Homo sapiens: one gene and its partners. The protein of the gene in region 1 purifies or fractionates together with the protein of each later gene. This does not show direct contact. Each region holds a gene or a part of one and is shown on either strand. Other genes may lie near its edges. The genes, in order: ACVR1, DOCK5, ARV1, SMAD5, CLCC1, FAM114A2 and RHBDD1.

Region 1 (3,500 bases):
GTAAATTGTAGACCAATGCACTAAACCAATGTGGCCTGTGTTTGAGGTCCACAGGAAAACAGGCTCACATGTTAAATGTGAGCCTCTAAGTGGCTTAACAAGAAGCAAATTAAGCTCTCAAGCTCCACCACTGCTCTCACTAGTCTCCAAACACAAATTTCCAACAGTGTGAGATAGAGCATTTAAAGTAATTTATCACTACATAAAGGGCAGATTGCTATAAGCACTGCTTTATTCCTAAAGGAAGAGCTGCTTATCTGAGCAGTAATGCTGACCAAACCCACAGGCCTTTTCTCTAGAATCATGGAAACAGACAGCATTTAACTGGACCTCAATTGAAAGCACAACTCTCAGGTTAAATGGCTTTCAAATGCTTTCTTAAACCATGACTCATTCCAGAATTCCTCAGTCAATTAGGGAGACAGGCTTTCTTCACTGGCCAGTGGGGAGACACATACATGCATGCTTTATTTGTGGATGATTTTATGTTACTGATGCATATGCAGACTGACTGAAAATGATTCCTATAACATTTGTTGTAATGAAAAGTGCCAAATTGGAGCAAGCAGTCCCTGTAAACCACTGCAATGCAAATATCCCTTGTTGATCTCTCAAGCCATCTACAGAGAATGCTTCACCTTCCACTCCACGGCTTTGAATGTGGGGGATGACAATTTCATATAACATCAGGGAGCTAGCACACCTTATCTCATCCTTAATAATTAGCAAAGATACTGGCAACTGCATTACACTAAAACAGACAGGTTCCTCTTTCACCTATTTTTATAATCAACCCCAAGATTCTATGGACACTGTGAACATTTCCCAAATCCTATGCAATAGTCCCCCCACTTATCCTTCAGTTACCCGCAGTCAACTACAGTCCAAAAATAGGTAAGTACAGTACAATTAAGTATTTTGAGAGAGATACCATATTCACATAAATTTTATTATAGCATACTGCTATCATTGTTCCATTTTAGTGTTACTAATGTTCATCTTTTACTGTAGCTAATCTATAAATTAAACTATAATAGGTATGTAATAGGAAAAAACATAGTATATATAGAATCTGGTACTATCCTGAGTTTCAGGAATCCACTGGGAGTATTGGAAGGTATTTCTCAGGGAAAAGAGGGGACTACTGTATGCCCCTCCACCATTTGCAGAACCAAACAGTCAAAATATCAGAATATTTAAAAGGTGCAGGTTAAATAGAACATGGAGATATTCTGAAGATGGGAGAAGCTTCAAAGAACTTGTGGACATATTTTAAAGCCACCACTGCTAGGATCTCCAGGTGAGGCATAATTCCCCATCCCTTGAGTGTATGCTGGACTATTGAATAGACTATGGCATAAGTGACAGTGGGTATCTTCACAGTTAGGATATAACAGATGTTATAAAATTATAAAAGGCTTCCTGTTTGTCCCTCTCAGCTCACCATGCACCATGTTATAAAGACACTCAAGCAACCCTGTGGAGAGGTCCCCCTGCAAGGAGCTGAGACCTGCCGCCAATCATGGCTTTAAGTGTGTCCTCACAGAGTTGGAAACTCCAGCTCTGGTTGAGCGTTCAGATGATTGCAACCTCCACGAGACCCTGAGCCAGAACCACACCGCTAAGTCATTCCAAGATTCCTGACTCTCAAGAGACTGTGTGAGATAACAAATCTGTGTTGTTTTAAGATGCTAAATTTTACAGGTGATTTGTTCTTAGTAATAAGTAATTTTTACACTAAAGATGACAAAACAACCGGATGCAATTTGTAAACTTTGGCTGAGTTCCTCTTTGAAAAAACTGAAAACATCTGAAAATGAATATAAAATGATACTAGAGAATTATCAATAATCTGTAGATATGAAAAACTGATTATGAAGAAGATGCATTTTTAAGTATTTTCAAGGGATGAATTTTGAAGTATTGAGGGGTAAAGTGTTGTGATGCCTGTAACACTTTATTTTCAAATGGATTGGCAAAAATATACACATGGTCACAGATTGATAAAGCAAACATCACAAAGTTTTAACAATTATTGAATCTAGGTGTTCGGGATTTAAGTGATCATTATAACATTTGAATTTTTTAATAATAAAAAGAAAAACAGACGAGGCACAGTGGCTCACATCTGTAATCTCAACATTTTGGGAGGCCGAGATGGGATTGTCACTTGAGCTCAGGTGTTCAAGATCAGCCTGAGCAACATAGTGAGACCTCATTTCTACTAAGAACAAAAAAAAGTTAGCCAGGTGTGGTGGTACACACCTGTAGTCCCAGCTGTTTTGGAACGCTGAGGCAGGAAGATTGCTTAAGCCCAGTAGATCGAGGCTGCAGTGACCTATGATCAGCCTGGGCAACAGAATAAGATCCTCTCTCAATCAATTAATCAATATAATACTGATCTTTTTGCAGGATTAATCATAGAACACTATTTCTAATACATGATCCTTAATTGCTAGGTATATACTGGTAAGTTATATACAAATTATGGTCTTATAAGAGTTGTTTCCTGCACTGCATTGTTTTACCATATCCTGAATAATAACGCCTTAACAGATTTTTATACAAACCCATATATCTAATTGGAAGGTTACAAGCCAAAAGAAATGTAGTTGAAGAATTAATTAGCTGGACTTACTGCAAAGTTCCCCTCAACTCCTTCCCTACCAAGTCCCATAAACCAAAACCAAGAGCCACCTCAATTTGTCCACCCTCCCCAGACCACTGGATTATAACAGAAGCTACAACTTGAATCCTTATTGTTTACCAGACATTTATAATACTTCTGGGCCTTACCAGAATCCGGTGAGGTGGGCTTATTTTTTAGTTACATGAGTAATATATGATCACACTATATATATATTTTTTTTTAGACGAAGTCTCGCTCTGTCGCCCAGGCTGGAGTGCAATAGCGCGACCTCGGCTCACTGCAACCTCCGCCTCCTGGGTTCAAGCAATTCTGCTGCCTCAGCCTCCCCAGTAGCTGAGATTCCAGACGCACGCTACCACGCCCGGCTATTATTATTATTTTTCTTTTTTTTTTTTTTTTGTATTTTTAGTAGAGATGGGGTTTCATCACGTTCGCCAGGCTCATCTTGAACTCCTGACCTCAAGTGATCCTTCCGCCTCGGCCTCCCAAAGTGCTGGGATTACAAGCGTGAGCCACCGCGCCCGGCCACGATCACACTGTTATGCAAGTTTCTAACAACGCAGAAGTACAGGGCACAGCGTCAAGCCCTGGAGTTCCTCTTGGCTAACTCCCAACCCCATCCGCCTTCGCCCTCACTGTCCCTGTCTCACTGAGTGAAAGCAGTGTCAGCACTTGGGCCAGGTAAATAGATAAATAGACTTGCACAAAAATACAGGGTAATTGAGAAAGCCAGAATTTAAACCCAAATCGCCCTGGCTCTAAGAGCCATGGAATAAGCCATAAAAGTCCTCTACACCACAACTAAAAATGCCTGCAAAAAACTTTAGGGCCATGCTCTTTCAATGCTTAT
Region 2 (3,500 bases), on another chromosome or scaffold:
AAGCAAAGCAAAAAATCCTTCCAAGGAGTAGATTACAGGGGTTGCTCCACCATCAATATGGAAGAACTTGTCCAGGCTTGTGCAGACCACCATGTCTCTGCCGTACAGGCTGACATTTAACAATGGTGAAGGCAATCTCTTCTTGGAAAAAATCAGAGGCTGTGACTGATTCTGGAATTCCATGTGGACTGGAAGGGAGGTGGCATGGCCTCAAAATTCTATCAAAGAGAAGCTTTTGGAAGAACATGACTGGTTTTGGGCTGGTAAACATCATCCCAGATCAGGAAATGCAGTCAGCAGGGAGCCCCATGGAATGAGGACACCGGCTGGAGGCCAGTTCTCAGGCAGCAGCTGTCTAAGGCACTCGGTGTTGCAGGGAGGGCAAGATCCTTACTGGGATCCAGGCTCGGAAGTAGGGATGCCAGACTTCCGAGCCTTTGGAGGTGGAGGGGGTGGTGCTTTGGCTTCTCTTCGGACAGGCAGTGGGGGAGCGAGCTGCAGAAGCAGAAACACAAAATTAGAAGCAGGTCTTAGCTTTCTTCCCAATTCTGCCTTCTCCTCCTATTTCTCATATTCTGCTTTAGCTTCTAATTGATCTGAGTTTATCTACACAGGCTTTGCAAAGTGAAATGGAAAACTACACTGACTTATCCTCCTTGTTTCCCATGAGCTAATCAGACACACGCGTGCGTGCGTGCGTGCGTGCGCGCGCGCGCACACACACACACACACACACACACACACACACATTTTCTCTCTCTCTCTCGCTGCCATATCCCCAACACTTGGGTTCCTGGCGTATAGACAGGAGGCACTTAAAAGTCATTTGTTAAATGACTGAAGGAAACCCATCTGAGGTCACTCCAGAATGACTGTCCTTTATTCAGAAGAAGTAAACTCTTCAAATGTGAAATAGAGGGCTGGGGGCAGGCAGTGGCTCACATCTGTAATCTCAGCACTTTGGAAGGCTGAGGTGGGTGGGGGGGATCACTTGAGGCCAGGAGTTTGAGATCAGCCTGGGCAATATGGAGAGACCCCATTTCAACAAAAGATTAAAAAATTAGCTGGGCATGGTGGCACATGCCTGTAGTCCCAGCTAATTGAGAGGCCAAGGTAGGAGAATCACTTGAGCCCAGGAGTTTGAGGCTGCAGTGAGCTATGATCGCACTATTGCACTCCAGCCTGGGTGACAGAGCCAGACCCTGCCCCCGCCCCCCTAAAAAGGTGAACTAGAACTCACGGCTTATTTCACAGGTACCCAGGACGAGGTACAGAGAACACCTGCCTCTACCTTCATCATCTGCTTGCATGTCTGTCCTTCCCATTGAAAACTTCTCTATCTCCTGTGGTTTCAGGAATGAGCCAAGAATCGACTGCAGTGACAGGTCTATGAGCAAACCTGCCCACTAAAGAGCCTGGAAAACCTGATGCTGCCTTCCCAGGAGTGGCGCTCCCTGGCCACAGTTGCCAGCTGTGATTTCCCTACCTCAGTGGAGTTCCTCTGGCTGCCTTCATAGGGCTTGCTTTTGGGGGGAGGTGGAGGTGGGACAGGAGTGGCCGCGATTCCATCTGTCTGCAACGATGGGGAGCCTAGAAATGACAGAAAGTGCAGGCGGCAGAGAGAGGCACTGAGCAAGGAAGCTCATGGAAATGTTGCTGGCACTGTAACACCTAAGCCAACCTGGTCAACCAACTGATGAAAGCCACATTCTATGGTTTCTGCGGATAGAACGAAGAAGACTTCTTACCCCACATCACACAGGTGACGCCCTCGCCAGAAGTTTCAAGAGCTCCACAAGGTGTTCTGAAGCAAAAACTTTATTTTTTTTATTTTTGTTTTTTTGAGATGGAGTCTCGCTCTGTTGCCCAGGCTGGAGTGCAGTGGCGCGATCTCAGCTCACTGCAAGCTCCGCCTCCCGGGTTCACGCCATTCTCCTGCCTCAGCCTCCCAGGTAGCTGGGACTACAGGCACCCACCATCACGCCCAGCTAATTTTTTGTATTTTTTAGTACAGATGGGGTTTCACTGTAGCCAGGATGATCTCGATCTCCTGACCTCGTGATTCACCTGCCTCGGCCTCCCAAAGTGCTGGGATTACAGGCGTGAGCTACCGTGCCTGGCCAAAACTTTTTTTGTTCAGGGTTTTAGTATTAAGCTGAAGATGACAACATTTTCTGGAATGTATGGTATTATTCTGTTCTCTGATATAGCCCAAGTGCTTAGGAAAATATCCACTTCCTCCAGGAAACTGTAACTGATTATCTCTAACTCTTGGTTGACAATTGTCTCCCATCTGGCTCGATAGATTTATCCCTCTACCATGCCTCTGGACTATGGGTACTTTGCAATTCTTCTCAAGTGTTGTGCACTGCTGGTTCCCCAAGCCAGACTATAAGCAGTAGATGGAATGGGTCTATTTCTTGTCCCTGTTCAGGTCTACCTAACTAATGGTTAGCTTGTAAGTTACTTGTTATCTGTCTAGTCCTAGTGCAGATCTGCCTCATTTATACCTTCACAATTATAAAACTGACACTAATGCCCTTTGGATCACTATCCAGAAAAGTTTAATGAGTCCTAGTGGCCTCCTTGCCAAACTCCAGTCTAACTGTATAATACACGAACACGAAATTGAACCAGTTTTACAATGGTCTTACATACATTCTGGCTGGTTTAGTTACAAACTGCCCAGATGCATAAACATACTCCATTCCCTAGTAAAAAGACTATAAGGAATACAGGAAAACTTACTTAGGGTCCTGGTGGCTTTGGGAGTGAGTGGAGGTGGGCTCAAGGGTGTTGACTGAGGAGGTGAAGAACCGTGAAATGGTGATAGCCGATTATCCATCAACTGGAGACTCTTTGGCCTTTGTGCTTTTCTGGTTGGGCTCTAGGACCAGAGAGAAAAAGCAAAACATTTTCACGGTGAGGAAGGCTGAGCTCAACAATGCTCTCAACAGCCTTGTCTTCTGAGAAGACACTTGGAAAAGGACTTAACTGAAGGAGCGATTTTTAAGCATTGTCATATGATGGGCAACACCGAACAGGCACTGACTAGAACCACTGAACCACAGATTATTTTCTGAATGGCCACAGACTTGATTCTTCTGATCACAGTTGGGCTGTGTCATTTATGTTGGAAATAAGCCACCCTGATTCTCAGGAAAAGGTGGTCTTGCCACATTTAACAACTTGATATGGAAGGAAAAGTACCTTTTAAAAAAATTAAAGAAGAGAAATGACAATGTTTGGATTGACTCAGGGGACAGAGTGGCAAGAACGACAGCTCTAAGCATCAACCCACATGTTTACATTGTGGGTACAAGATCTTCACCAATGTTGATTTATAGACTCGAACTTCTCATGAGGTATGTGCTTTCCTTACCACAATCTGCGACCTGACACTAACCCAGGCTGCTGAGTCCTGAAACAAGCCATAGCCCAGCTTCAATCTGGGAGGGGATGGTGATATGCCTGGGTACAGGGGAGAGGGGGGCAAGCCT
Region 3 (3,500 bases), on another chromosome or scaffold:
GAAGGAGGTAGGCAGAAACCAGCACCAGGAGACACAGCAGCTGTTATTCCTTTTGCATTCATTTGTTTGACAAATGTCTTTGGAGTGGCTATTACATGTATAACAATCGTTCTCTTTTCTTGGCCATTTTATGGACCAGGAACTTCCAAGGTGCTAGATATTCACCTTCAGCCACAGTTTCTATCCTCAAGGATCTAACAGTTTAGAAGCAGAAGACAAACATGCCTCTATGATATGGTCTCATGACCACAGTCATCAGACTATGTAACATCCAACGGCTACAATGGGATAAGCACAGGGTGATATGAAATCAAACAGAGGAGGCAGCTTCTGGTAGTATGTGATATGCTGTGTGCTTTGCCCATTTCCCTTCTTAGCATTCGGCATGTTTTATAAATGCTGAGAAGTCATTAAAGTTTGCTGGTTCCCTCTCAGTCAGTTTGAAACGCCTAACCTTGTTTTTACTCTAACTCGTTACTTTGAATTTTGTCCTGCTTGTCTCTTTAATCACCTAGCTTTGCTTCTCATGTAAGTAAGACTCTCTCTAGCTGGGAAGGCCGGACAAACTCCAATTGACCTCTTAATTTACAAGACACTAAGGGCTCATTACCCAACCCCCTTCCGTAAGGAGTTGGCCTGGGTAAACAGATAATCAGCATTTCAAAAAAGCCCAATTAACTGATAAGGTACTAACACCAACAATGTATGAAGTTCCCAGGATTTTTCTCAAAGAGATAACAACATAAAACCTTGAGTTCGTGTCCGGCATAGACCCTATATCTAATTATAATGAAGGATTTAGAACCTTGCACCTGGTACCGTTGCTCTTCTTGTAACCATTTGTCTTTTAAGTTGTTTATCTCTCTGTAACCATTTTGCTTCTTTTGATTCTTGCATGTTTTTACTTCTGTAGAATTATTGCATTTGAGTCCCCCTCCCCTTCCTAAACCTAGATATAAAAGTTAATCAAGCCCCTTCCGAGAGAATTTTGAGCATTAGTTGTCTCTTTGGCCGCCGGCTTAATAAAGGACTCTTAATTCGTCTCAAAGTGTGGCGTTCTCTCTAACACCCCTGGGCACAACAAGTTTACACCTCACTTTCCTTGTTCTCCCTCTATTATTTGCTTTTCCCTTAAGTGCTGCTTGCAACTTCCTTTCCCTCTGCCTTCACCTTGAATGTGAAGAGGAAAACTACACACACACACACACACACACACACACACACACACACGCACACACACACACACACACGAAACAAACAAATGTAGACATCCCAAAGCAGACCACTGGGAGTTGTATTTATTCAATTTAGTATATATGTTTCTTTTCTTTTCTTTCCTTTTTGAGACAAGGTCTCACTCTGTCGCCTAGGCCTGGAGTGCAGTGGCAGGATCTTGTCCCACTACAGCCTCTGCTTCCCTGGCTCAAGTGATCCTCCCACCTCAACCTCCTGAGTAGTTGGGGCTACAGGCGCGTGCCACCATGCCCAGCTGATTTTTGTAGTTTAGTATAGATGGGTGGGGGACAGGGGGTGGTCTCACCATGTTGCCCAGGCTGGTCTTGAACTACTGACCTCAAGTGATCTGCGATTTAGCCTCCCACAGTGCTGGGATTATAGGTGTGAATCATCACGCCTGCCCAGATTTAGCAACTATGTTTCCTATGTTTCTTATTTTGGCAAAATTGTTTCATTTACTACTTTATAGGCAAGTATCCTGAAAAGAGAAAAATCTTCCTCTAAAGAATCCCTACAACGCAAGGACCAAGCATACTCTGGGAATTCAGGCTGCTTCCATCACCTGTCTAAACATGGATATGACTTCCTCTGTCCTGCTGTGTTCTCCAATGCCTAATGAATCAGATCTCTTTTAGAATATAAATCGGCCAAACCAATTTTTTTCATAAATATTCCTGCTGTTTCCTTCCTGTCATCTCTAGGAGCATTCCCTTCCCTTCTTTAAGTCTTTAAGCTCCTCAAGGGTAGGGCTGTGTCTTATTCATCTTTGCATCTAGGATCCCAAGGGTGGGAGCCGAATGCTGTAGTGCTGAAGGAAATGGAAACTTAGGAGACTCTTATAGGAGTTTTGTTTTGTTAACATAATAATGAATTTGTTAAATATCTGTGCACTTAAAATAAGCCAAGCCCTATAGCAAATAAAAAGTACTTTTTTTTTTTTTTTTTGAGACGGAGTCTCACTCTGTCATCCAGGCTGGAGTGCAGTGGCGCAATCTCAGCTTCACTGCAACCTCTGCCTCCCGGGTTCAAGAGATTCTCCTGCCTCAGCCTCCCGAGTAGCTGGGATTACAAGAGTGCGCCACCACGCCTGGCTAATTTTTGTATTTTTAGAGAGATGGGGTTTCACCGTGTTGGTCAGGCTGGTCTTGAACTCCTGACCTCGTGCTCCGCCTGCCTTGGCCTCCCAAAGTACTGGGATTACAGGCATGAGCCACCGTGCTAGGCCGAAAGTACTGTATCTTTAAGCGTACTTATAATAAATTGTGAAGAGCTGAAGCAGCAGGATTGGTTAAAAGCAAGGGACACATGATATATTAGAGGAAAGTCAGAGAAACACAGAAAGGCAAGCTGGGAGGAATGGCAGTGAAGAAACAAGCAGAGCAAAAGGAAAGGAGATTGGGATGAAAAATACACGTGGGCGATCAGGCTGAGGATCTTGCTGACTCCAAGTTCGGCAGGGAAGAGACCAAAGTATATATGAGTAACCACTTAGAAACTCTGGAGATTATGTCACAACACATGGTCTAATGTTTAAAAACTTCTTACTTTTTGTATCTCAGAGGTTGGAGGGCCTTTAAAATAATTCATTGCTTCATGGTTTAATTTTTTAGTCTGGCATCAACAAAATGATTTTCCCTGAGTCGTGCTATTATGGCCTAAAGTTTAGTATGCATTAGCATGATAGCGACAAGGCCATTAGACACTCTGTCTCATTATGGAATGACTGTGGACAATAACGAATCCATAAAGTACTGTGCCACCATTCAATATTCCAAATATAACTCCAAAGTCCATCTCTTGGGAGAAAGAGTATCATGTTAGGGAACAAAGGGGAGGGGGTAAGTGAATGTTGACCTAAACAGCTATCCAATAATTATTTTGCCTTTCCATAAACAAAATAAACACCTGCTGTTTAGCAAAGGGATTTTGTTAGCTTAATGCCAACAAAAAGAGATTTTTTGTATTATTGAAGACTACTAACTAAAATGCATATACAAATACCAGCTTTTCTTCAGACCATATTCAGTTATGTGGTTATCATCTTCCAAACTGACCATTTAATTGGACCAGTCCAAAAGTTATTAAGTTTAGACCACATATAAGATCTTGTTCTCTTCCTCCTACCTGGATGGCCAAGCATATGCTAATCTAAAAACCTGGAAGTGATACATTTATTCAACAGACATTTACTGAGTGGCTACTAAATGTCAGTCGCTGTTCTGGGTGATACAGCTACATTAATGAATAAAACAGAGAGAATGTCT
Region 4 (3,500 bases), on another chromosome or scaffold:
TTGCTAAGCTTCACAAAGCTTCTATTTCAAATGAATTCATGTTGAATCAATAACCCAAAGGTCCTGTTCTTACCTAAGGTTATGGAAGTACTACATCCTGACCAACTTTCATAATAAACACACACACAAACTGACTTCAATACCCACCCCGAGACACACATACATACAGAAAAACATACAGAAAGACACACACACACACACACACACACACACACAGAGCTCACAGCTAGATTTCTAAAGTGAATTCACAGAAACAACTCTTTCACTTTGTGCTCCAACATCTCTATGACTGCTGCAATCTGAAATAAAAAGGCAAGCAAACCAATCCCCACATTTTCCTCAACACTATTGGCCAAAACAAAATCTCCTGAGCACATCATCCCATGAAAATAAATGCCCATAATGGGTCACAACCCATTGTATTCTAATTCAAACCTGTACAAAATAATTGGACATGGGGTTTTTAAATCAACAAATTCCTTAGAACCATCCCTCAAAATTCAGATTCACTAAGCTTGGCAGAAGGGCCTTACTGCCCACATTTTTAACAAGAATCTCGGACCATGCAGGAGGCTTGGGAACCAAGGTGCTCAGGATCTCCTGCAATGGAAGAAAGACACTTGCATACATACAACCTAAGGGTAACTTTTGGGGGCAGGGGGGATGTGGGGGTAAAGCTTTAAAAATCTCTTACCCTTGTGGTTCTCATTATCAATAGTAGTCACCAAGTGTCAGCAAGTAGACAACCACCACCACCACTGTCAAACCATCCCTAGATCCATGTATACAACTGCTATCAACTTTGTAAGCCACATTCACAACTGCACGCAGAGAGGAGAAGGAAACCAAAAGCATGTTTGCTCACAGCTCTTCTAGATTCAGAAATCCTATTCTTTATAAGAACATCTACAAGAAAGACAGGATACAATTACATGGGCGCCAAAATTATTTTCACAGAGAAACATTTAAATCACCACTTTCCTCAACTGTGGCTCCCGATTTCCAAAGACATAAGAAGTTCTCATAGCAGATTTCAAAGCCCTTCAGGAGCTGAACTCATGATTCCCAACACTTCTCACTGCATAATCTTCTTGCCTATTCTGTGCCCACAGAATTCTCTACTTTATTATCTCCCACAGCCAGACTTTTGTTTCCCAGTTTTTAATCACTCTTTAAGCTTCACCTGCTCCTCTAAGTCCCCTAATTAAACAGAGCCTGATCTAAATGTATCACTCACCCCCACAGAGCCTGCAAGATTTCCTACATTGCTACCAGATGTGTTTGAGTATGCTTGTACAGGCGTGTAGGCACAGGAACAGACACAGAGCTGGTCAATCTTTGTAGTGATTCCTTTAAATTATAAAATCATCAAGTGCAGATACCAAATCATGACTGTAAAATGTGTCTCTGGAGCACAAAGAGCTAACCTGTGTACACGACATATATTACAGTGCATTATGAAGATGTTCTCCAGAGAACTCATGTGCACCCAGAGTTCAAGTTCCCTGCTTAGTAGAAAAGGGAATAAACATGACTCTGGGTAACTTTTCAGCTCTAGTGTCATCATTCACTTAATTTACACTTTCATCTCCAAAGAATGAGAAATGGTCAATGAGTAAAGTAGACAGAAGATGTGACTAAGAAGAAAACAGAAGAAGACTGGCTTTTAAATATTTTTGCAGAACCCCCCTCTTCCTGGGAACACACAAACCAGAATAACTAGAACTCAAGTTGTACAGCCTACCAGATAGGATACTAGGCAGATCCTAACACATCATGAAAACAAACCTGAACAAAACAAAACTTGCCTTGAAAGCACCAGCCATATTCTGAGATCATAGTTAAATTTGAAAGATGTAAGCCTCCTCCCAAGACTCCAGTTGCTATGCTCAGAGAAAAAGTGGGAATGGGACACTAGTTTTTTTCTATTATTTTCGGTATAACAAAACAACATATATGGATATCAAAAGAAAAAATCCTGCTAAAATCTTAACAGGTCAAATCACTTTCAAACTTCTATATTGTACCAGTCTATAAAGTACATATATGCTATAGGAAGAGATGCGGGGGGGGGTCCCAAAAAATTCAAGAGCAAAACCTAGTTACAAAATGTTATGTTAATAACTAGCTTCCAAAAGTGAATTACAATTATAGTATTGCACACACAGAACTGACTTAATAAAGAACTCTTTCTTGCAAAATATCATCTCAACCAAGGTAGGATACAGTAAAAGGAGGAAGAAAAGTCACTGAAAACACCACTCTACTAGAACTGGGCCAAAAACATCCCCCCTAGCTGCCCAAGGCAAAAAAAAAAAAAAAAAAAATCAAAACTAAATAAAGAGCCCAGCCAGGCACGGTGGCTCACACCTGTAATCCCAGCACTTTGGGAGGCCATAGCGGGCAGATCACTTGAGGTCAGAAGTTCGAGACCAGCCTGGCCAACGAGGTGAAACTCCATCTCTATTAAAAATTCAAAAAATGAGCTGGACGTGGTGGTGGGTGCCTGTAATCCCAGCTACTCAGGAGGCTGAGGCAGGAGAATCGCTTGAAGCCGGGAGGCAGAATTGCAGTGAGTCAAGATCGCGTCACTGAACCCCAGCCTGGGCGACAGAGAGAGACACTCTCAAATAAATAGCCCAGAACTAGCTGATTATTTATGAAAAACCTAAGAACTCTGTAATTACCCCATCTTTCCAGGTTGGAAAACAACAAAGCTGTTAGAATATTAAGGTGGCCTATGAGATTAGTCCTAACAACAATCTAGTTTTTAACAATTCTTCCAAAAGAGTTCTAAATCTTTACCTCCCATTTAGTAAACAAACTTCTCAGATTCAGACTTCTGATTAGAGGTAAAGGGTATGTGACAACACCAATGAACTGCAAATTCCAATGACTATTATTCTATTAACTTCAGAAGTGGAAAAACAAGGTATGTTAAGAGTTCAAGACCAGCCTGGCGAACATGGTGAAACACCGTCTCTACTAAAAATACAAAAATTAGCCGGGTATGGTGGTGGGTGCCTGTAATCCCAGCTACTTGGGAGGCTGAGGCAGGAGAATTGCTTCAACCCGGGAGGCGGAGGTTGCAGTGAGCCAAGATTGCGCCACTGGACTCCAGATTGGGCGACAGAGCTAGAACCCAGTGGCGGGGGGATGCCATGGGTCAGCTTCCAAGGGTCCTTCATCATCTGTTTTGATGGGAAAGCACCCTATATTGCATCCCAGCTTCCTTGGGCCTTTTCTTTTCTCTAGAATATTCTTTTCTCTAGAATATCCAGGTATTCTTTTCTCTAGAATATCCAGACTGGTGGAGACAAGAATCATTCCTCAGGCTACTAGTATCCCTTATAAAAGGGAATCTTACTCAATGTCTTTGACCCTATGAGAAGACGGGCAAATCATAGGCTATAAGCTGCTTGTAACATTTGAAGAAATAAACTATTTGCCTTCTTTGTGGTTAGTGTACAGAGAGACAGAGAGACAGACAGACAGATACA
Region 5 (3,480 bases), on another chromosome or scaffold:
AAATTCATTCTGGGCTATTTCTTAACAGATTTAACAGCCTAAGACAGAGGCAGGCAAACTTTTTCTGTAAAAGGCCAGATAGAAAATATTTTAGGCTTTGCCGCCCATATGGTATCTATTGCAACTGCCCAACTCTGCCATTTAGTAGGGAAGCAGCCATATAGATAGTATATAAACATATGTATTGATGGGAAAATGAAAATGACTTCATTTACAGAAGCCGGCACTGGGTTACAGTTTGCTGTCCCCTAGCCTAAGACGTGATTTTTTTAAGGTAGTTCCTCATGGGGTTTGTACATATTTCTAAAGATTTGTTAAGTTACACAGTTGATGCCTGTTAGATTATAACCTTGAACTGTCATACTTAGATACAGTTGACCTTGTCTTTTATCCTTGTGACCAATTATAATTAAAACAGTATGACTTAACATAATGCACGTACTAAACCAATGAAGCAGCTATACCTATATAAGCCATTTTAAAGGAAAAATTTTATGCAGTTTCAGGTTTAAAGATTATTTCTTTCAGAAATCAGGCTGGGAACTAAAGAGAACAATATAAAAACAAAGATTAATTTCTGAGAAGCCCCAAATAAAAGTTTACAACTGCGTTTTCTTGTTGTGACTGAGAGATTTAACATAGCTTGGTGCTTTCTTTCCCACAGTATGTCTTTTAATCTCTCTCATAAACTTCTAGGGATCCAGATTAGATGATCAAAGATGTGCTCCACCACCTGCTACCACAAAGGGTCCGACAGTACCAGATGAAGACTTTTTCAGCCTTATTTTACGGTCCCAGGGAAAGAGAATGGATGAACAGAGAGTTCTTTTACAAAGAGATCAAAACAGAGACACTGACTTTGGGCTAAAGGACTTTTTGCAAAATAATGCTTTGTTGGAGTTTAAAAATTCAGGGAAAAAATCGGCAGACCATTAGTTACTATGGATTTATTTTTTTTCCTTTCAAACACGGTAAGGAAACAATCTATTACTTTTTTCCTTAAAAGGAGAATTTATAGCACTGTAATACAGCTTAAAATATTTTTAGAATGATGTAAATAGTTAACCTTCAGTAGTCTATTAAGGCATTAATACTTCTCTGGACATGCGCGTTTGAGGGTGGAGGGGTCCTGTAAGGTGCTTCATCGTCTGTGATTACTGCTTGGGATGTGTTCTTTGGCAGCTTGTGAGATTACTTTACCTAGTGTTTATAAAGTAGGAAGTTAAGTGAATCATAGATTAGAATTTAATACTCTTATGGAAATAATTTTTTAACATCTTAATTGACAATGGCGTTTTTTTATACATAACCATGGATGTAGTGGGAAACAATGTTGTTTGGTAAAAATAATGTACTTGATCAATGTAAAAAAGTATATAAAATAGTCTTACTAAAAATCTAGGTTTTTTTTTCCTCCATGAAAATCTGTTTTTTTAGGCCAAAGTCAGTATAAAAGAAACTCTACTTCTTGGGCTGGGCATGGTGGCTCATTCCTGTAATCCCAGCACATTGGGAGGCTGAGGCAGGAGGATCGCTTGAGGCTAGGAGTTCAAGACCAACCTGGGCAACATAGACCCCCGTGTCTATGAAAAATAAATCAGCAGCCAGGCGCAGTGGCTCACACCTGTAATCCCAGCACTTTGGGAGGCCGAAGCGGGCGGATCACTTGAGGTCGGGAGTTTGAGACCAGCCTGGCCAACATAGTGAAACCCTGTCTCTACTAAAAATACAAAAATTAGCTGGGCATGGTGGCATGCGCCTGTAGTTTCAGCTACTTGGGAGGCTGAGGCAGGAGAATCACTTGAACCCCTGGGAGGCAGAGATTGCAGTGAGCTGAGACCAAGCCACTGGACTCCAGCCTGAGTGACAGAGCAAGACTCTGTCTCAAAAAAAAAAAAAACAGCAAGCATGCTGGCACACACCTGTAGTCCCAACTGCTTAAGAGGCTGAGGCAGGAGGACCACTTGAGCCCAGGAGGTGGAGGCTGCACTGAGCTATGATCGTGCCACTGCACTCCAGCCTGGGTGACAGAGCAAGACCCTGTCTCTAGAAAACAAGTATCTTTTGTGTGTTTTGGGCTGTTTAAAAAAATTATTTAAAATGGTCTCTTCTGTTCCATAATACTGCTGTAAAACAAACTTTTCTAAGTTCTAATATAAAAACAAAAAACAAAACCCATGTGGTTAGGTCAAGAACCTAGGACACATAAACAAACAGAAAACAGATGAAAACTCACAAAAATTAAATATGAAAGAAAGATGTCAGCTAGAACCTTAGTTGTCATTAAGCTTTGTCTTCCTTATCCCAGATATTGAAGGCAGTTTACAAGGGGATGATAACAAAGTAACTAACTAACTGTAGCAAAAGACAAGTATGGGACAGACTGGGACCTGGAGTAACACTGGATCACAGACTGCAAAGGCCCACGCTTGGAACAAGTTGCCAACTTGTTTCACTCTGCTTGCTTCAGACTGTGCACAGCTGGGATGGGATCTGGGGATGTGGACCCCTATTCTTTCAAAAAGTCATTCAGGTGATTTGGATGGGCAAATAGAACTATTTCTCTAATGGCCAATGTTTTTTAAGAGTCATAACCTGGAATTAATTACATTAAGTGCTCAGCTAAAAAAAAAAAAAAAGTTCTAAATTACAACCTGGATTACATTATGTTTCATGTATACTATAAGGTATGATGTCCTGGATAGCATTTTAAAAACTCAGGTAAGTTTCATGGGGTTCTTATAAGAAAATTCAGTTAAGACAATATACCAAACCACAACGTAAAAAGTTTGTGTATACAAACTTTTTGTATTATTTGTACACAAAGTACAAATTTGTATTTGTACACAAAGTACAAACTTTGTGTATTATTTTGTGTATACAATAGTTCTTACAGCCTGTAAACATTCAACATTATTCCATTTAAACATTGTTTTTAACAGCTGTCTACCCTGTTCTGATTTTCCTAAAAGCTTCACACTATATAGGCTGGGCACAATGGCTCATGCCTGTAATCCCAGCACTTTGGGAGGCCGACAAGGGCGGGTCACTTGAGGTCAGGAGTTCGAGACCAGCCTGACCAACATGGTGAAACCCCATCTCTACTAAAAAATACAAAAATTAGCCAGGCATGGTGATGCACATCTGTAATCCTAGCTACTCGGGAGACTGAGGCAGGAGAATCTCTTGAACCTGGGAGGTGGAGGTTGCAGTGAGCCGAGATTGTACCACCTCACTCCAGCCTGGGTGACAGAGCAAAACTCTCAAAAAAAAGTAAAATTTCAAAAAAGCTTCACAATATAAACCTTAATTTTAATGACATATTGGCTAGTCAATAAACAAGTCTTATCTCATCTCATCTCTTTTCTGATAACAAACACCCGATGTGTTCAATTTGCTTTCATATTTAAGTCTTTCCTGAATTGCTGTCATCATTCAACAACAGTTGCATGTCGCCTTGCTAGCTGTCAAAGTAGACTT
Region 6 (3,500 bases), on another chromosome or scaffold:
ATTTTTTTCTATCTGTGAGGTGAGTTGTAATAATGTAGAGTTCCTGTGAGGTTTAAATGTGTTCACACACATAGCTCTTACAAAGGGCCTGGCTCATAGTAAATAAATGCTCACTGTTGATGGCTCCACAGAAGACAGCCCGATGTCCTCTACATGTAGCTGTTCAATAAATATACATATGTGTTCAATAAACCTTTATTATGCTTAGTAATTTGCTAGGTGCTAGGGAAATAATCATGAAAAAGACATAGTTTACATGCTTAATGAGAGATCACATTAATACGTATTTTTGTAAGGCCAGTAACTCCTTATCTGTCTGGCAGTTCTCGCCATTCTCTGAAAGCAATCTTCAGATTGTTTAAATTTTAGGCATTGAGACTTAAGATGTAGATTGGTTAAGGATCAAGGCCTTAACCATTGGCCCTCAAAAGATTTATATGGCAGGCTGTGATGTAGGGGAAAGAGCACTGAATTAGGAGTCCGGGAATATGATTCTGTGATTCTGATTCTTGTTCTAATACTCACATGTGGTGTGGCCTGGGGCAAATTCATTTTCTTCTGTGGGCCTCATTATTTTTCTGTTGGAAATAAATAAGCTTTTGGAGAAGCCAAGTTCAAAGGTACCTATTGAGATCTGCAGATCTCAACAAGTGGGAAGTTCCAGACTGAAATGTGGTCGTGGATGACATTAATTATTTTGGGAAAGGATAATAAATTACCTTGAGTTGGCACAATAGTTCATGATGATTTCACTTAATATATTTATTACAAGAGAGGTCACTTTGGGTATGCTCTATGCCTACTAAAATATCTCCTGGCCAGGCGCGGTGGCTCACGCCTGTAATCCCAGCACTTTGGGAGGCCAAGGTGGGTAGATCATGAAGTCAGGAGTTCAAGACCAACCTGGCCAAGATGGTGAAACTCCGTCTGTATTAAAACTACAAAAATTAGTCAGGCGCAGTGGCAGGTGCCTGTAATCCCAGCTACTCGGGAGGCTGAGGCAGGAGAATAGCTTGAACCAGTGTGGCAGAGGTTGCAGTGAGCTGAGATCATGCCACTGCACTCCAGCTTGGGCGACAGAGTGAGACTCCATCTCAAAAAAAAAAAAAAAAAATCTCCTTTGGGTATATTAAATTTATGGTATCCGTTTTTTCTTTTATGTGGTCTATCACTCTCCATTTTTCTTTTTTAATCTCTGATAAATTAATCCTTCATTTTTTTACTCAATTTGTCTCTTCAAAGATATTGCAAAGAATTTAACATATTGTTTGTATTATTAGTCAACTGTTATGATTCTTTCCAGCCTCATCTCTCAGTGTTCTCTTCTGTAAACCTCACTACTCCAACCTAATTTTCTGTCACACTCCTCATCCTCTATATTCTTCCTTACTGGCCTTTATTCTGTTTCTCAGGTGTACCAAGCTGATTTCCCTGTGCTTACAACTCTCTTTGCCTAACTATTTGTATGGCCAATTCCTTCAGATTTCAGCTGAAACATAACTTTTCAGAGACCCTTCCTGACCACCCAAACTCAAGCCACCTTCTACCCATACCCACCGTTACTCCATTTTATTTTCTTTATGTATGTTTTTGTTTGTTTGCTTGCTAATTGCCTTATTAGGAGAGAGAAGAGCAGACTCCTAGTTTGTATTATTCACCATTGAATCCCCAGCACTGGCACAGTGTTAGTATATATTTGCAATAAATGAATGAGTAAAATGCCAGTATCCTATATTTTGGTCTTGCTAGATATCTCACTGTTTGCCTACACACTTTGCATTTTTCTGTTTCCAAGCCTTTATATAGTTCATGCTGTTTGGTGTTTTGAATTTGAGAGGTTAATGCTTAAGTAATGGGAAGGTATAGATCAGAGCTAGATTGTTCCTGAATGTTTTTGTGGGAGGATATAGGGAAAGAACCCTACAGTGAAATTCTGGGAACACAGGTCTGCTTTAGCTCATTCGGGTAGCCTTGGGTGTAGCCCCACTTGCTGATCCTTCAAGGCCTAACTCCAGTACTGTATGTGTAATAAAACCTGTTTTCTCAGTTAGAATGACTCTCAAAGTCTTCTCTGGATTCCTATTACCTCATGACAGCTTTGAACACATTCTGTGTATGTAAAGTTAATAAACTAGGTGGTAATAAACAGTTTCTGAGAAACCAGGACTCTTTCACTTGCAAATGACAGAAACTCAAGTTAAGAAACTTAAAAAATAACAGAAACTAATTTAAAAGAGGGGAATTCAGTAGCTCAAGAAAATAGAAAATCAAGGAGCAGAACTGGCTTCAGGCATGGCTCTATTCAGGAACCTATCTCTATCCCTATCTGTGTCTTTCGGCTTGCTTCCTTTTTGTTTTGGCTTCATTCTTAGGGAAGCTTTTCCATATGGTGGTAAAATGACCATTGGCAGCTTCAGGGTGGGTGACTTTTTTCCATTTCGGTAACTCTTACTGAAAGAACACTTCTTTTTGCTGATAATTTTACCAGATGTCCTGAGACTGATGTCCATTGATCTGGCTTGGGTTACTTTTTAATCTATGCACCACTTACTCTGTGGACAGGGGTATTAGTATTCTCAGTAGCTAAATCTGAATGGTTTGCCAACTTTTGGAGCCAAAAGATGGAAGCAGCTGCACCCAGGTCACATGAACTAAGGAGAATCTAGAACCTGCCACCAAAAGAAAGGAGATATGGGTGCTGGTCATATCCATATCCAAAACAGTAGATGTTCTTCACAGTGTGCTGGACACTGGGTGTGCAAAGCCAAATAAAACACTCTCTAGCTATCCTATAATACATAGTTTAGTTAGGAAACAGATAATTCTACTATATTTGGTTAAGTTCTGAATTTAAGTTACCTGAAAGAGATGATGTCTGGGTAGAGGATTGAAAGAACAAGTACAGTAGAGGTCATTCTTACCAGAAGATAAAGTGGAAAATGATAAGAGATGAGGCTGGAAAAGTAGGTAGGGTCTAGGTCATGGAGACCTGTTACATCATGTAAAGAGCATGATCTAGTTGATGAGGAGCCATTGAAGGAAAGAGGAATGGTCAGCCCTGGGCTTAAGACAGATCACTGGTAGCATTTTGGAAGATAGATTTAAGATAAACAGATCAGAAGCAGAGAGACCAGTCATGAAGTGGATCTGAACTCAAGTAGTGGTAATAGGGAGGAGGAAGACGGGAAGAGGATGATGAGGGGCTTGGATAAAATCAGACCATCTTGGTGATTGGTTGGAGAGGAAAAAAATCTAAGATGGCCCCTATATTTTGGCTCAGGTAACTGGTACCTGGTGGCACCTCTAAAACTTTGGGAAATAAAAGAGGTTGAAAAATTTGGGGTAAGAAGAGAAAGACAATGAGTTCAAAGTTTTTATTTGTTGTATGTGTGATGCCTGCAGAGTATTTTGTCTAGCAGACATTTGGAATAAGTTTTCAGGAGAGGTCAGGTCTAGAAATAAGGATCTAAGAGTCAACAGCAGGTTGAGGATAGTTGAAA
Region 7 (3,329 bases), about 69 Mb from region 1:
ATTGGCCATTGTACCAGCCACTTGTCCTAGCCAAATGTCCAAAACACGCCCTTGGGCCCCGCCACGTTACAATCCACAGATTGTCTGTCTGAGTCGTTTAAGGCATTTCCTGGTGCTTGTGTTCCATGAATAAAAGGACAAAGTCAGAAGATCACTGATGTCTTACTGTCAACAGAGATATTTTAAAAGAGAGAAGCAGGAAAAGATCTTCCTTTTTTGATCTACAACTTATATAGTTTTCTGATTATGCACATAATAGATATGCCTTCCAGATGCATAAGGCAAACATCTGGAAAGAAATATACCCAAATCTTAGCAGGGGTTATCTTTGGGAGTGGAGTACATGGGATTTTGCTTTCTTCATTTTTATAATTTTATATTACTGTCTTGGAAGATGTGTTTATGTGTGTGTGTTACTTTTACAATCAGGAAAACATATTTAATAACATATAGTCAAGAAAACAGACTTAAAAATAAATACTATGTGTCCATTGAGAAAATTCACAATATAAACAGAAATACAAATAAATACATACACAATTTTAAAGTCACCTGTAGCCCTACCCTTAGAGGTACCCAGGGTTAACATTTTGGTGGTATTGTCTTATCAATTTTTCCGTTGATACATTCAGCAAATTTGGAGCACATTGACCATGGAGTTTTGTGTCCAAATCCAATCTGAATTTACCTGGAAGAGGCCTTGACACCTGCATGGAAATGAGCTAAGAAAACCACTGGAGCCTTGGGAGCTCTTTGGCCTCCTGGCTGGCCCAGTAATATCTGAGCTCCTTTGGTTAATTTATAACTGATATAAAACTACATCTTCTTTATAATATAAATTGTACCTGTGAGTCTAGAAGCTTTAAATGTGTTTAAATTAAAATATTCAAGCTAAATGTTACTGCTCTCTCCCAAATTCTGTAAGTTTGACTCCCGTTACCCCAATTAGAAGTAACTTCTTTGTTTCATGCCACTTTTATAGCATTTGGTAATTCTGCTATAACACATCTTGCCCCTATTATTAACTGTGCACAGCTACACAAAGGTGTGCCTTCTACGTGGGAACATGGATTGTGAATGACTCTGTAATGAGGCCTGAGTCTTAGTTATCTTTCCACTCACTCCCCGTCTCCCCTTTCCAACCCCAAAGGCTCACGATAGGGGCTCACTAAATGTCAGTGTTTCACCAAAGTATTTTTTCCATTGTATTAAGAGTCCAGTCACTGTATATGGAAGTATTTTATTTTTTATTTTTTTATATCACTTGAGTCCACTAGTAGTACTTCCTTGCTCTGTTTGACTTGTCAGATACAAAGACACGGGATTAGATTTTGGGTGGTAAAATTGTGATACGCATGGCTGTTGATGGAGTGGAACATCTTAGTGATGTGAGAAAGGTCATTTTAGTTATAAATGTAAACCAATTACTTTAGCACAACAATAAAGATGTTCTGGAAATTATTATAATTATTTTAGTTAATGGACTTGCCTGTAACAAGTGCTTATGTTTGGAATGTCCATTTTATTTTATTTTCCTCTACAATAAGGAATCCCTAAAGTTATGCCAACAAACTGGAATTGGATTGAGAAAGACAAAAGCAAGTGAGCAAGTGTATTAGACTAATTATCTCTAGTAGGGAATAAGCACTTAGAGCTAATTTTTTAATTTGGTTTATTTATTAGTAGCTCCCTGATTGTCTGTTAAGCCCCTGGTTCCCACAGTTTGGTGTGGTCAGTCAACTTAAGCGACCTTTTAATGCAGAATCTTTACTTGGTTCTGAAGAGGAGGCAGTAGTTAAAATTGCTTCCTCTTAATGACTCTGAATGTATTGCCTGTGATTCCAAAGTTGTACATAATTGTTCAGACCTCCTCCATCCTTTTAAATTGCCTGCTGCAGTAAATAACTAGTTTGAGTAGAACTAGATCCTGTCTATCTATTTGGCACATGTTCTGCTGCCTGGGGAGTAAGCAAGCTAAAGGGATGAGAAAGACCACCTCCCCCTACCCTGGAAATTGCACTGCAAGGCAGGGCGAGAATGGGGTAGCTGGCAGACCTGGCCTCCTTGTTCCCAGTCTTAGTTTTTCTTGAGAGATTCAGTATTCAGTAAAGAATAGCATTCAATTAGTCAAAAAATATATATATAACTTCTTCCTTTCCCTTCCCATGAATCATTGCAGTCATTCCCTAAGTTTCTTCTCTTTTTTTTTCATGGCTGCTAGTATTTTATTTTAGAATCACAGACTCTCAGCTTAGAGAGTCACAGTATCTCAATTATTTGCTCTGTTCAATACTTAACAATACCTCCTCACTCAATTCTACATAACTCCAGCTTAGTCTTCCAAAATTCACTTTCATGATGCCACTCAGCATCTCAAATACCTTTCATTGGCTCTCTGCTGCCAAAGGATAAAGGTCAAAGTCATTAGCCTCAACAGTGGGCTTCAACCAGCCTTTGGACCTCAGCCCCATTTATCCATCACAGAGGCTGGTAACTAGTCTCACTGCTCAGGCTGTGAGTGTTCCTGATCTTGTGACATTCTGTGCTGTGCTTTTACATGGAACAGCTCTTTCCTCTCTCTTGGCCCATTCAGATCCTCCTCATCCAGCCCCCATCTGAATCCTGTAACAGACACAACCACATCTACACAGTTTCCACATACCACTTGGAATTGCTGGTTATGCTGCAATGAGAGAATGTCTTTGTCTTTAAATTGTAAGCTTCATGAGGGCAGGGACCATCTGTTTCTCTGTCTCTCCTCACAGTGCCTTGAGCAGTACGTTGTCTGGAATGTCAGAACCAATAAATACTTGTGGATTGAAACAAAAAGAGAAGCTCATTTATACTGTCACCAGTGGCGCACATAAACACTAGTGCCTGGTGCTTATTGATATCATTGTAGGTCTTTTTTTTTTCCCTTGAATCAATCACATCAAGGAAAGAATGATGGAAAGCATTTGCTGGTAGAAATAGAGACTTCAGGGCCTTTGTCAGCCTGAAGACATGTCCCACTGCATCGAATGCTGTGACCTGGTACACAAAGCTCAAGATTCCCACACGACCAAGAAGTGTCACCAAGGAGTCCCTGTGAGTAGTACCGAATCTTGCCATGTGCTTTTTACAGGTCTGCGTTGGATGTGTTTGTGCTAACATTTTTTCCTTCTGTGGTATTTAGGGGCAGAGAGAGAATGATCTTAACATCTCGATCAGATGATAGATGAATTGGCAGATTTAGATATGTGATTTATACTTTAGAAAAACTAAAATGTTGCTAATATAATAGAAATCATTAAATTTGGTCATAATAGGTATTGCTGCTTGGGAAGAGA

What was found.
Region 2: the proteins of ACVR1 (region 1) and DOCK5 purify together in Homo sapiens (co-immunoprecipitation; one large-scale study listed by IntAct). This does not show direct contact.
Region 3: the proteins of ACVR1 (region 1) and ARV1 purify together in Homo sapiens (affinity purification with mass spectrometry; 3 studies listed by BioGRID and IntAct, with this or other methods). This does not show direct contact.
Region 4: the proteins of ACVR1 (region 1) and SMAD5 purify together in Homo sapiens (affinity purification with western blotting, with the first as the bait; 2 studies listed by BioGRID). This does not show direct contact.
Region 5: the proteins of ACVR1 (region 1) and CLCC1 purify together in Homo sapiens (co-immunoprecipitation; one large-scale study listed by IntAct). This does not show direct contact.
Region 6: the proteins of ACVR1 (region 1) and FAM114A2 purify together in Homo sapiens (co-immunoprecipitation; one large-scale study listed by IntAct). This does not show direct contact.
Region 7: the proteins of ACVR1 (region 1) and RHBDD1 purify together in Homo sapiens (co-immunoprecipitation; one large-scale study listed by IntAct). This does not show direct contact.

The regions. Positions count from the first base shown.
Region 1 is NC_000002.12:157,761,331-157,764,830, forward strand, and holds part of ACVR1 (activin receptor type-1 precursor), read right to left. Parts: intron 1-3,500. UniProt on the Homo sapiens protein: Bone morphogenetic protein (BMP) type I receptor that is involved in a wide variety of biological processes, including bone, heart, cartilage, nervous, and reproductive system development and regulation.
Region 2 is NC_000008.11:25,408,189-25,411,688, reverse strand, and holds part of DOCK5 (dedicator of cytokinesis protein 5), read right to left. Parts: intron 2,888-3,500; coding exon 2,749-2,887; intron 1,591-2,748; coding exon 1,487-1,590; intron 496-1,486; coding exon 391-495; 3' UTR 1-390. UniProt on the Homo sapiens protein: Guanine nucleotide exchange factor (GEF) for Rho and Rac. GEF proteins activate small GTPases by exchanging bound GDP for free GTP. Along with DOCK1, mediates CRK/CRKL regulation of epithelial and endothelial cell spreading and migration on type IV collagen.
Region 3 is NC_000001.11:230,982,094-230,985,593, reverse strand, and holds part of ARV1 (protein ARV1), read right to left. Parts: intron 1-3,500. UniProt on the Homo sapiens protein: Plays a role as a mediator in the endoplasmic reticulum (ER) cholesterol and bile acid homeostasis. Participates in sterol transport out of the ER and distribution into plasma membranes.
Region 4 is NC_000005.10:136,135,845-136,139,344, reverse strand, and holds part of SMAD5 (mothers against decapentaplegic homolog 5), read right to left. Parts: intron 1-3,500. UniProt on the Homo sapiens protein: Transcriptional regulator that plays a role in various cellular processes including embryonic development, cell differentiation, angiogenesis and tissue homeostasis.
Region 5 is NC_000001.11:108,929,005-108,932,484, forward strand, and holds the end of CLCC1 (chloride channel CLIC-like protein 1 isoform 1 precursor), read right to left. Parts: 3' UTR 937-3,480; coding exon of another isoform or gene 697-936; 3' UTR 501-696; downstream 1-500. Other genes in the region: GPSM2 (G-protein-signaling modulator 2), read left to right, coding at 697-936. UniProt on the Homo sapiens protein: Anion-selective channel with Ca(2+)-dependent and voltage-independent gating. Permeable to small monovalent anions with selectivity for bromide > chloride > nitrate > fluoride.
Region 6 is NC_000005.10:154,004,411-154,007,910, reverse strand, and holds part of FAM114A2 (protein FAM114A2), read left to right. Parts: intron 1-3,500.
Region 7 is NC_000002.12:226,996,382-226,999,710, forward strand, and holds the end of RHBDD1 (rhomboid-related protein 4), read left to right. Parts: 3' UTR 1-2,829; downstream 2,830-3,329. UniProt on the Homo sapiens protein: Intramembrane-cleaving serine protease that cleaves single transmembrane or multi-pass membrane proteins in the hydrophobic plane of the membrane, luminal loops and juxtamembrane regions.